3 linked regions of the Homo sapiens genome follow. The protein of the gene in region 1 purifies or fractionates together with the protein of each later gene. This does not show direct contact. Each region holds a gene or a part of one and is shown on either strand. Other genes may lie near its edges.

Evidence for each region.
Region 2: the proteins of NANP (region 1) and TIGAR fractionate together in Homo sapiens (co-fractionation; one large-scale study listed by BioGRID). This does not show direct contact.
Region 3: the proteins of NANP (region 1) and ESD fractionate together in Homo sapiens (co-fractionation; one large-scale study listed by BioGRID). This does not show direct contact.

What each region holds. Positions count from the first base shown.
Region 1 is NC_000020.11:25,621,215-25,625,329, forward strand, and holds the start of NANP (N-acylneuraminate-9-phosphatase), read right to left. Parts: upstream 2,801-4,115; 5' UTR 2,735-2,800; coding exon 2,645-2,734; intron 1-2,644. UniProt on the Homo sapiens protein: Catalyzes the dephosphorylation of N-acylneuraminate 9-phosphate (Neu5Ac-9-P) to N-acetylneuraminic acid (Neu5Ac or sialic acid). Can also use N-glycoloylneuraminate 9-phosphate as substrate.
Region 2 is NC_000012.12:4,348,713-4,352,212, reverse strand, and holds part of TIGAR (fructose-2,6-bisphosphatase TIGAR), read right to left. Parts: intron 2,395-3,500; coding exon 2,317-2,394; intron 947-2,316; coding exon 836-946; intron 1-835.
Region 3 is NC_000013.11:46,794,362-46,798,573, reverse strand, and holds the start of ESD (S-formylglutathione hydrolase), read left to right. Parts: upstream 1-1,412; 5' UTR 1,413-1,469; intron 1,470-4,212.

The sequences.
Region 1 (4,115 bases):
GCCAAATCTGACCAGTCTATTTAAAATGTTGATTTGTTACCCTCTCTGCTTTTTCTATCACACCTGTAAATATTTATTATGTTCACTGCCATACCCACTAAGAAGTAAATTCACAAATGCAGAAATCTCTTCTGCTTTGTTCACTGAGAAACTCCAGGCTTCTGTAGAAAAGTTCCTCTTGAGTAATTACCATGAAAAACAGGTCTAAAGAGGGAGAAAAAAAATAACTTCCCTAGGTGATTAGAAAAAATTAAAGTTGATACATACAGTCAGTATATGACCTCTTCTCCCCAAGCCCAAGGCCATAAATGGCTGGACCTTTCCCTCTTCCTCCATTCATAAATTATTATTATTTTTTGAGACGGAGTCTGGCTCTGTCGCCCAGGCTGGAGTGCAGTGGCGCGATCTCGGCTCACTGCAAGCTCCGCCTCCCGGGTTCACGCCATTCTCCTGGCTCAGCCTCCCCAGTAGCTGGGACTACAGGCGCCCGCCAACACACCCGGCTAATTTTTGTATTTTTAGTAGAGACGGGGTTTCACCGTGTTAGCCAGGATGGTCTCCATCTGCTGACCTCGTGATCTGCCCATCTCGGTCTCCCAAAGTACTGGGATTACAGGCGTGAGCCACCGCGCCCGGCCCATTCATAAATTATTTACAATGATTTGTAATTATAAAGGAGGCAGTAATAGAACCAAGTCTCGAAGTAAAAATTTGTATCCATCCATCCAGCATTTATTCAACATTTGCCATGTGTCAAACGAGGATAATTAAGACAGCTTGTTCCCTCCCAAGAAGCTCACTATTTAGTAGTAGGCACCTGAGTTGCAAAATTAATTGAAATATCCTTTGACAGATGCATTAAGAAATATCTGAACAAAATACAGCACTACTATAAGTGAGGGTGTAAAGACCAGGGAGGCATACGATTTAGTCTTTGTTTTAAAAATATTGCTGTGGCAAGAATGTGGAGGACACACTGGATGTGGTAAACCTGGAGACAAGCCCACAGCAACAGTCTAGGTGAGAGATGAGTTCAGCTGTAACTGAGACATGCACGGGGCATGTGCAGTGGTGGACAGACAGCGTACGAGGGTGGAAGGTGCTATAGTTCGCTGAGTGGACACTGCAACCATGGGCTTCCCAAGTATTACAGGGTTATTGAGGACTAATATAATTCACATTTTATGAAGATATAAGGCTCCGAGTGGTTAATTCCTTGAGGCACTTTCAGCTAGGTTTTGGGAGAGCTGTGATTCATATTCAAATGTCTGATTTTAAAGCCCAAACTCTGGGCCTACAGCAAGAATTGGCCTAAAGCAATAATTTAATTGAAATGCACAGGACTCAGCTTACTAATAACACACAGGTAAATATGTAACATCTGCAGCGAGAGATACTGGAGGCAATATGGCACAGGGTGGCACCCCTGAGGTGGAGGCCAACAAGTTAAAAGTGTGGAATGCCTCAGTAAAGTCATGAAGACAGACTTTAAAAATGTCTACTGATTCCGGCATTTTGGGAATGCCTAGTGATCCAGCAAGTCTATTTCAGTCTAGCGGTGAAGATAAAGCGACATTACGATGGATTTAGTAATAAATAGGAGGTAGAGACAAGGAGATAACGGGTATAGATTTCTCCGGGAAAACATGGCTGTCAAGAGAGACAGGCAACATCTACAGCAGGAAGAATAGCCCAAAGGGAGGCATCCTTTTTACAGCTTTTTTAAAACTATAGGGCAAACATGAATATGCGGCAGGAGTGGAATGCAGCTAAAAAGAAAACGGATGAGGTAGTGGAAGATCCAGGGACACAAAAACTAACTGATGAAGCATGAAGAGGACGGGGCGCTCAGGTTTGGATGAATTAGCTTTTGAAAGTGAGTTTTCCACATCTGATAAATCCTTCCCTTTCCCCTTGAAGCTGAAGGTAGAGAAAGGGAAGCCGGGGTGGACTGGGGCTGGAACACGGGAAGGTCTGAAAGCGCCTCCGCGCGTGTAGAGGGGCAGTGCCGCGGAGGAGCGCCTCAGGAAGGGCATGCCCTCGCAGCACGGGCTTTTGCTGTGTCACGTGTCAGAAAGCCACGGTGACCACCACCCCGCCAGGGAGGCCAGAAGAAGTTCTGCGGCGACAATTCTCTAAAGCAGGGCTTAAGTCCAGGCTCGGTACTGACAGCCGTGTCCCTTCTTGGGTCAACACTGGGGCTAACTCTACCATGTCTCCTCCCAGCAACCCCGAAAGTCGCATGGGGGACACGACCCTCTGTCGAGCTCCACACCGACAGTCTGACCGGGGGCGGGACCAGCGCCTGGTCTCGCGGCTTTGCTGTCGCCTCCCGCGCCCACGGGCACCTCCGCCACCGTGGCAGCCGTCACGGAGCCCTTCCGCGTCCCGAGCGCCAAGGCACCTGCGAGCAGCCGCTCCAGGGCTCGAGATTGGGTGACAAGCGGCCGCCAGGCCAGGGAAAGCAGACCCGCAGGGCCCGCGCGCCTCCAGCCACCTCCGCACCCGCACGCTCCACAGGTTTCAACCAGCAAGAGCGGCCCGCGGCGCCGGGGTGGAAGTGGGGTCAAGGGGAGGTGAGCGTGCAGGACGGGGCGGGGCGCACTGACCCCGCCCAGAGGAGCGCCATGGGTGGGGACGTTACCTCCAACATGCCTCTCCTGCTCGCCCCGGCCGTGTCGATGAGAGTGTTGTCCAAGTCAAAGAAAACCGCCCGCACGCGGCTCAGCCCCATAGCGCCGGCCGCTGGCGCGAACCGTAGCCTTGCCACCGCCGCCTGCGCATGCGCAAGGCGGACTGCCCAGAGAGACGTGGGAGGAGCCGCGAAGTCACCAGACCATCTCCCGGCGCGGGTGGAATTCCCGCGATCTGTCTCATTCCCTGCGCCGCCGAGAAAAGTGAGATCCCGCGAGACTCCCAGGGTATGGTCTCTCAAGAGCCCTGGAAACGTGTGTCGGCGCCGCCGGATGCGGCGACTTCTCAGTGGCTGTGGCTGGCGTTGGTCCGAAGCGTGGTGTTCTTCCCTGGTGTCTTTCTGCTTATCTCTTTCCTCCCTGGGCCCTCCGGCGCGAGGGACCGTCATCACCTCCCCGAGAGAGGTTGTCCGCGCTGCCAGGCGCTGGGCAGCAGGCTCTCCGGGTGGCCGGGCGGGCGGCGCGGAGACGTCGGCGGGCCTGATGTCTGCCTTGAGCGCCCGCGGTCCTAGCCTGCCTGTACGCGCAGGTCACTGTAGGTGATCTGGGGACGGGGGAAGGTGGAGCCTGCGCCTTCCCGCCTCGCGCCATTTGCGGCCTTCGCCGGGGTGGAATCCCTGTCTGCCTGGGCCCGCGCCAGCACGTTTCTGAAGGATGTGACTTGGGTCTCTTACAACCCGTTTAGTACCTGTGCCCTAAGACGGAGGGGCTGTGTAGTGGCTGCCCCATGTTTTGCCCTTCCTGATTGTTTTCCTGAAACCTTGCGTTCTCAGGTCTTTGGATGCCTTTTACTCGGTTGTTTTCAGGCATAGCAAGAGGTTGAGGGACGTCGACCGCCTTTTAAACCCGCGGAAGGGCTGTAGCAACTCTTGTCTCCTAGTGCTGGCAGAACGGGGATCGTAACACTAATCTCTAATCTTTGTCTCTCTTGGGTACCTTTACTGTAATTTGGATATGTGGTCATCATTAGTGACCAGAAATTGACTGTCAGGTACAGGCCAATTACCTGATTTTGTTTAGCCAGTGAGCTAAGTGGTTTTTTTTATTTTTTAATTTATTTTTATTTTTATTTTCGAGATGGAGTCTTGCTCTGTCACCCAGTCTGGCGTGTAGTGGCACGATCTTGGCTCACTGCAACCTCCGCCTCCCGGGTTCAAGCAATTCTCCGGCTTCAGCCTCCTGAGTAGCTGGGATTACAGGCGCATGCCACCACCCCCCGGCTAATTTTTGTATTTTTAGTAGAGACGGAGTTTCACCATGTTGGCCAGGCTGGTTCTCGAACTCCTGACTTCGTGATCCACCCGTCTTGGCCTCCCAAAGAGCTGGGATTACAGGCGTGAGCCACCGCGCCTGGCTAAGGGTGATTTTTACATTTGTAAATGGATTTAAAAAATCAAAATAACAGTGTTTTGTTACACATGA
Region 2 (3,500 bases), on another chromosome or scaffold:
CCTTAAAACGTTAACATAGAACATAACTGACTGGATTTTTTTCTAATATTGAATGCCAAGTACTACACAAGCAGAAGAATATCAATCTACATTTCTATTCGTTCAATCAGTAGTTTCATGGACATATATAAGTATCCACCACATTTCTGGAATTACAAAAGCACCATGGAGACCAAGATGAAGAAGATCCAATTCCCAATTCCTGAGTTCAAAGCACTCACGGTCTAGTTAGGGAAATCTACAAGCCAACAGAAACTCATAAAACAGTGCTAACCAGGAAGCTGTCTCTGGCACTTCAGTGCCACTGGAACAACAGCAGCAACAAATCCTTCCCTTACTAAAGTAATGGAAAGTATTTTCAAGAAAATTAAGATAAAGATTAAGGAGGTGGTGGTGGGTTAGGGGGAATCACCAATATGCAATTCGAAGCAGAACACTCCAAAGAAATGCAAGCACAGGGATGCCACCATGAACAGAGCTGAGGAGGCAGCAGAGGCTTGAAGACTTCATGTTTTGAGTTATTTCACCTCGAGTGACTTGCCGATCACCCTCTTTGAACTCCACTCCCACCACTAAGCCACTGCTTCATATTCAAAGGTCTTTTTTAGAAGTACCATCTAATAACACCTTTCCTTAAGTCCATTATCAATAATGACAAAGGCAACTGAACAGTAAATAAGATTTTAAATAGAAAAGAATAATTTGCTAAGTAAATAGATAATTTAAAATGGAAAAGAGAATGAACCAAGCAACTTTCAAACTGCTTAGCTAAAATTCCAAAACATCTAATTTTGAGTCTTAATTCAACCATTCTGACATCGGCAGCGCCACATACCTGGTCCAGCGTCTCTCCTCCGGGCGGTGTAAACACAGGGCACTCTTCCCTGGCTGCTTTGGCCATGGCCCTCAGCTCACTTAGCGCTTTGCCTTCTACAACCCCGTATTTCTGAAACAGTCCAATAGATAACAGTTTCTCAAATGAAATTGCAATATAACAATTAAGTTTATGTTTATGGCAAATTTAGAACATTCATCCCAGGAATAAGCTAACTCTCCTCCACTTAATTGATTCTATCTCCTCTGAACTGATAATGAGAATGTACTCAGTAGAGGGCCATGAACCTTAGAAAATATAATTGAAATCTTAAGTTGTACACTATGTCCAAATGGGTTATTTTAGAAGAACTTGCTATTGCAAGCAGATGGTGGGAATTTATTGAACAAATACAGAGATTTGCACAGATTATAGGACTAGAGATTAACATGCACAAGGTACCAATTCAGCCATCTCCCATCCACACATACTACACCATTTGATCCCAATGACAGCACCATGAAATAGCTAAATAAATATATCACCATAGTTATAAGGAAGTTGAGTTTCAGAGACGCTAACATGAGAGATCTATTTCTTTTTTTTTCTTTTTTTTTTTTTTGAGACGGAATCTCGCTCTGTCACCCAGGCTGGGGTGCCGTGGCGCGATCTCAGCTCACTGCAACCTCCGCCTCCTGGGTTCAAACGATTCTCTTGCCTCAGCCTCCCGAGTAGCTGGGACTACAGGCGCGTGCCACCACACCCGGCTAATTTTTTGTATTTTTAGTAGAGATGGTGTTTTACCATGTTAGCCAGAATGGTCTCAATCTCCTGAACTCAAGTGATCTGCCCACCTTGGCCTCCCAAAGTGCTGGGATTACAAGCGTAAGCCACCACGCCAGCCACATGGCAACATTGTTAAGCTATTAAATTGGAAAATCACAGAGTCTAATAATACCAATTGTTGGTGTAAAAAAACAAAACTTTCTCCTAGGTCATTCATGGGACTATAAATTGGCACAGGTTTTCTGGAAGGCAACTTGGCAATATGTATATAAATGCCTTTAAAAAAGTACACACTCGCCGATGTCCATTTCTAGAAATATATAGGTCTACAATAAATTAACTACAAAGATGTTTATTTTGACATTATTTACATCAGTGGTAGTCTAGTGAAAATCTAGCTTTCCATCAGCGTAGCTAGGTTACATAAATTATGCAATATCCATATTTTTCACCTTTACTTTAAACTCTTCTATACTGTGTTAAGTTCTTATGAGCGTACCTTCTTTTATACCTTAAGATGCTTGTCTCGTTTGATTTTAATAATAAGATCCTATATACGAGGGTATGTAACAGTGACTGTCATATGGTAGATTCTTAAATATTTTCACTGATTCGAAATCCCTAGCAGAAATGCATTTAACTTTTAGCCAAGTGACAAACTGAGGTGGCTTACTGATAATTTATGGGGAAGAACAATATGTAAATAAGTTACTCACCCTTTCCCGAAGTCTTGAGTCATACTTTACCGTCATATCTTTGCAAAATTTGCTTCTCTCCAAAATTCCATGCATGGTCTGAAAATCAAGACAATTGTTTCTTTCTTTATAAAAATAATCACCATTCTGGTGGAAGCACTGAAAGAATCTATGTCATCTTAGTGAATAAAAAAGAACTAGAACCAGGCACGGTGGCTCACACCTGTAATCCCAGCACTTTGGGAGGCTGAGGCGGGTGGATCATGAGGTCAGGAGATCGAGACCATCCTGGCCAACATGGTGAAACCCTATCTCTACTAAAAATACAAAAAATTAGCCGGATGTGGTGGCACGCACCTGTAGTTCCAGCTACTCGGGAGGCTGAGGCAGAAGAATTGCTTGAACCTGGGAGGCGGAGGTTGCAGTGAGCTGAGATTGCGCCACTGCACTCCAGCCTGGGTGACAGAATGAGACTCCATCTCAAAAAAAAAAAACAAAACTAGAAATGATTTTCCTTTGCAAAAGTTGCCTCTCTGTGTACATCTGTGTACACATCTGTGTCTCTTCATTCCTGATTTTGATATTCTCTTCTAACCTATCTTTTAGTTCAGAAGTCAGCACAATCCAGACCATCATCTGCTTTTGCAAATAAAGTATTTTACTGGGACACAGCCACAGCATTCATTCATGCACAGTTGATGGCTGCTTTCTTGCTATTACCGCAGACTTGAACAGGTGTTAACAGAGACTGTATAGACTATAAACCCTAAAAAAAAATTACTATCTGGCTCTTTACAGAAAATGTTTACTAATCCCCATTCTAATTCCTTAATTCGCCATTCAAATGTGTCTAAATTGTTGTTAAACCCATCCATTGAGCCTTAATTCCAATTGTATTTTTAGTTCTAGAATTTGCATTTGGCTCTTTTTTACAGTTTATTACAGTTCTGTACTGAAATTCTACATCTTTCACCTATACAAAAATATAGTTATTTTAAAGCTCATGTCTGGTAACTCCATCGGGTAAGTCATGTGGCTGTTTCTGTTGTCTTTAGCTCATTTTTATTCACATTTCCTTCTCTCATTGTAAGTCTAGCAATTTTTGATTGACAAGCGACCCTGTCACATAGAAATAATTTAGGTCCATGATCTGCCTTTTTTAAAAACACATTTCCCAACAAATTAGACATCATCATCATACTGTT
Region 3 (4,212 bases), on another chromosome or scaffold:
TTATATATATTCTTAATATTTTTAAGCAATCGACTTTTGTGGATCTATTAACATTTTATTTATGCTGGGTAAAAGAAATTTTAGTTCTGCTTATTCTCACATTGTATTCACACAAGAACCCTTTAGTAAAGAACTTCACACTTACAGTTCTTTGGCTAGTCTGCACCTCACAGCAGTCCACTTATTAGGCAAATATATCATTTAATCAATTATTTCTCTTTGTTCAAACATCAGTTATAAAGAACTTGCAATTTAGGTATTTATTCTGTTTCAGTTTTGAAACTGAAGAAAATCCCCTTTTCAATGATTTATACTTAAAGATAGTAAAAAGAAAGTTTAAAACAATTTACTTCAATGCTTTCTCAAAATAAAAACATTATTTTGATGAAACATTATTTTCAGTCTAAGTTCCAATTGATCCACAGGTTCAGTCCACAGGTTAATTTAGTCCAAAGATCACTATGGCAAAATGGGCCTGAGCCACACAATAGATTCTGGCAGGTAATCTCTTGTGTGGCAGCTCATCCATACTTAAGTCAGCTCCCATAGCTACACAATTTGCAGGGCCCAATTCCAGACACAAACGTGGGGCCCTGGTTCAACACTTACTGAGAGAAAATGTAGCGTCCTTCTGTTCTGGGGGCCGGGTAATAGCACAGGTTGCAGGCCCATGAGGCCAGCCCCAACTATCAGATTGTGTATTTACAATGTCAGTCTAACCGTTGCTGAAAAATACTTAGCTCTGTTGTAATCAGATTTAATTTCTCAAGAGGCAAAGTACACTCAACAGTTTGCTTAAATCAGAGAGACCAAAAGGAAAGATTTGCTGTAAATTATCAACTAGCAAATCTTAGTCAGTTCAACTTAATTTTTATTGAGGGAAGAAGGGAGAAAACAGAAAACTGATGGAGTTCCCACTGCGTGTCGGCCACTGGAGATTTCAAAGGTTTCTTGTTTAACTCAAGCTACCAAGTAGGTGACGTGGATAGTCTTGGGACAGAGGAGTTGAGGGAGTTGAAATTAGGCCCTAGTTTCTACATAAGTGACACGGAAACCCTCTGCACGAGTTAAGCGAAGCTACATCTCAAGTTTATTAATGCCTCGGGTTCTTGCTGCTGGCTCTGGGAAGAGTCTGAGCACGCACAGCAGACTGATCCCCGACAAGGTGACAGGGACTAACCTAACGCCCTCCTCGTTGGTCCTAGTAACCACACAGAGCAGAAACGCGGGCGAAGGCAGGAGTTGGAGGGGGCGCCCACGCGGAGGCTGCCGGGAAGTGCAATGTGCAAAGGCGGCGGGGCCATGGAGACTGAACTGGAGAAGAGCGGGTTCTCGGAGTTAAAAGCGAGAGTGAGTGGGACCGGAGGGGCGGGGCATCATATGGGCGGGGCTGAGGCGAGGCCCCGGCGGCCATCTTGAGCCCCGCCTTTTACTTCGGCCCGCTTCTTCTGGTCACTCCGCCACCGTAGGTAAGACTGGGTTCGGGTAGAGGCCTGGACGTTGTCAGCCTTCCTGCGGCTGCGGCACGGCTAGGCGTGATCGGGGCGGACGCCGAGTCCTGCGGTGCAGGTATCCGCAGGCACGAGCGCAGAGACGGCGACCCTGGGCCTTGGGCGCCACCATCCATGACAGGAGGCCAAGGACCTTTTCCCGTGACCCGGAGCCTCGCCTCTAATCCCTTTTCCTTCTCTGAGCCTCCAACCTAGTGTAACCCGGGGCGAGCGCCCGTTTACCTACTGCCCGCTACATTTGTACAGCTTTTTCCTGTTCAGAAAGACTTTCCTAGACCCGCAGCCACCGCGCGAAAATGTGAAGTAGATGTGTACGCATTTTAAGGAGGGAGCTGGCCTCAACGCGTTACTAGCGGCCGCCGGCGCCTGGTTCGGGGGAGTGTGGACCTGCTGCTCTAGGCAGCGTCCGCGTCGGGGCACGAGCCAATGGCGCGGTCAGGAGCACTCACCTGATGGTGCCGAGGGGAGCACGTGTCTTTGGAGTTTGACAAAATCTGTTCGGGTCGTAAAATGCTCTCAGAGCGCTGTGGGGGACTGGAAGTCATTTCTGATGGGGTCATTAGGGAAATGGGATTGAGCGCACCTGGAAGGAGAGGGCATTCAGGTTGCAGGAAAAATAATAGCTCATGTTTGTGTGTGTGGTAGAAGCAGCATTTTAAGCACTACGTGAATTAACTCATTTAATTCCCAGAGCAACCCTATCAAATTGATATATATTACTGTATACCCATTTTGCAGATGGGCAAATGAGGCATAGATTAGCTTGCCCAGTGTCATGTAGTAATAAGTGGTGAAGTCAGGGTTTGAACCCGGAGGGTCTGGCCCCAAAACCTGCTCTGAAACCATTGTACCGTGGCATTGAGTAAAGCCACCCGATAGCAACATCCAGGCCATCCTAGAATTATGCATAGTTGAGTTTAACTAACAAAATAGGGAGTGAGACCAGAAAAATAATCTGGGACCAAATTATAGACCATATTTAGAGCCATGTGAAGGTGTTTGGCGTTTATAGATGCTATATTTTTTTTAAAAAATTTTCCCCAGAGTTTAATAGAAATCCTTACCTAGGCAAGCCATGTGAATTTTTATGAAGGAAAAGAGACCCAGCCTAGGCAGCATGGCAAAACCTCCTCTACAAAAAATTACCTGGGCATGGTGGTGCCACCTGTGGTCCCAACTACTCCAGAGGCTGAGGCGGGAGGATCACCTGAGCCCGGGGGCCGAGATGATTGCAGTGAGCCGAGATCAGGCCACTGCACTCCAATCTGGGCCACAGAGTTTGACCCTGTCTCAAAAAAAAAAAAAAGAAGAAAAAAAAGACTGTGTTTGCACACAGGTAGAGTGTGACTGAAGTTTATATGGAGTTTTATTCATCTATTTTTTCAGTGATCCTGCATGGTTTTAATTTTATGAAATTTTAATGGCATTAAACTTGAAGAAAATTGTACAATTAACATGGTCTTCCATTTCAGTGACTTTCTGGTTCTCAGCGACTGGCCTAACAGCGAAAGGGATTAGTAGTCTCCACCTGCAGCAGCCAGGGGGTGATGAGGCAGTTCTCATCTGCTCATTATTGTGAGCTGGCGAACTGCGTTTTTACATATGACTAATGGATACTTAACACTACTGAAATACACACTTAGGAATGGTTAAGATAGTAAATATTATGTATGTGTTTTTATCACAGTTTTTAAAATACTAAATAAAAATGACTAACAATTCCACGTAGGCCGTATTAGGCTGCAGATGAGCTGTTGGTAGGGATCCGTTGACCAGTAAATTAAGTGGATTAAAACCCTAGGCTTTCATGCAGGATTGATCGTAGTGGGATGTATTAGGAAGAAAGGAAGAGGCTAAGTTTTAATTTCTTATATATAATTAGGATGATGGCAGTGGGAATTCAAAAAGAAGGTAACTTTGAGGCATCTCAAATGTAGATTAGGCAAGACAGGCATGAGTCTGAAAAAGAGAGGCAATGAAAAGAGGAATGGTTTGAAGGTGAGATGCAGAAGCTTAATTTTAGGTGTGGTAAGTTTTAATAGCTGGTGACATGTCTTGGTAGAAGAGTCCAGCAAGAAATGTCATTATGGGTACTAATGCTTGAGAAAGATTGGTTATAGAGATGCAGATTTAGATTATTTCACCCAGAAAATGTAGTTGAAATTTAGGGAATGAGGTTTAGGGAAAGAGTGTGAAGAAAAAAGAAAAGGGAGGTGGGAGGAGACAGAGTGAAAGGGAAGAAGCCAGATCCTGAGTTTTCACTGAGAAGAGGATTTGAACAACACAGTGGTGGTCAACAGCAGTTATTGGAACTGTAGATTGTTGGTTTTGGGAACACCTGTCTAGGTTGTTAAGAGCCAGTGGAATAGGACATCCTGGAAATGAAGAAACATCAAAATCCAAGGAATCTGAGAGAATGGGAACAAAAAAACACATGTAGAGATTTATGGAAAACTTGAGACACAGGGGAAGAAGGATAAAAATAGAACTCAGATTTCTGGAGGTGGATGACATTTAACTTTAATAAGTAAAGGGCCCTGTCTCTACAAAAAATTAAAAAAAAAAATATTCCAGTGTGGTACGCACCTGTAGTCCTAGCTGCTCAGGAGGCTGAGGTAGGAGAACACTTGAAGCTTGGAGTTCTAGGTTACACTGAGTCATGATTATGCAACTGTACTACAACCTGGGCCACACAGCCAAG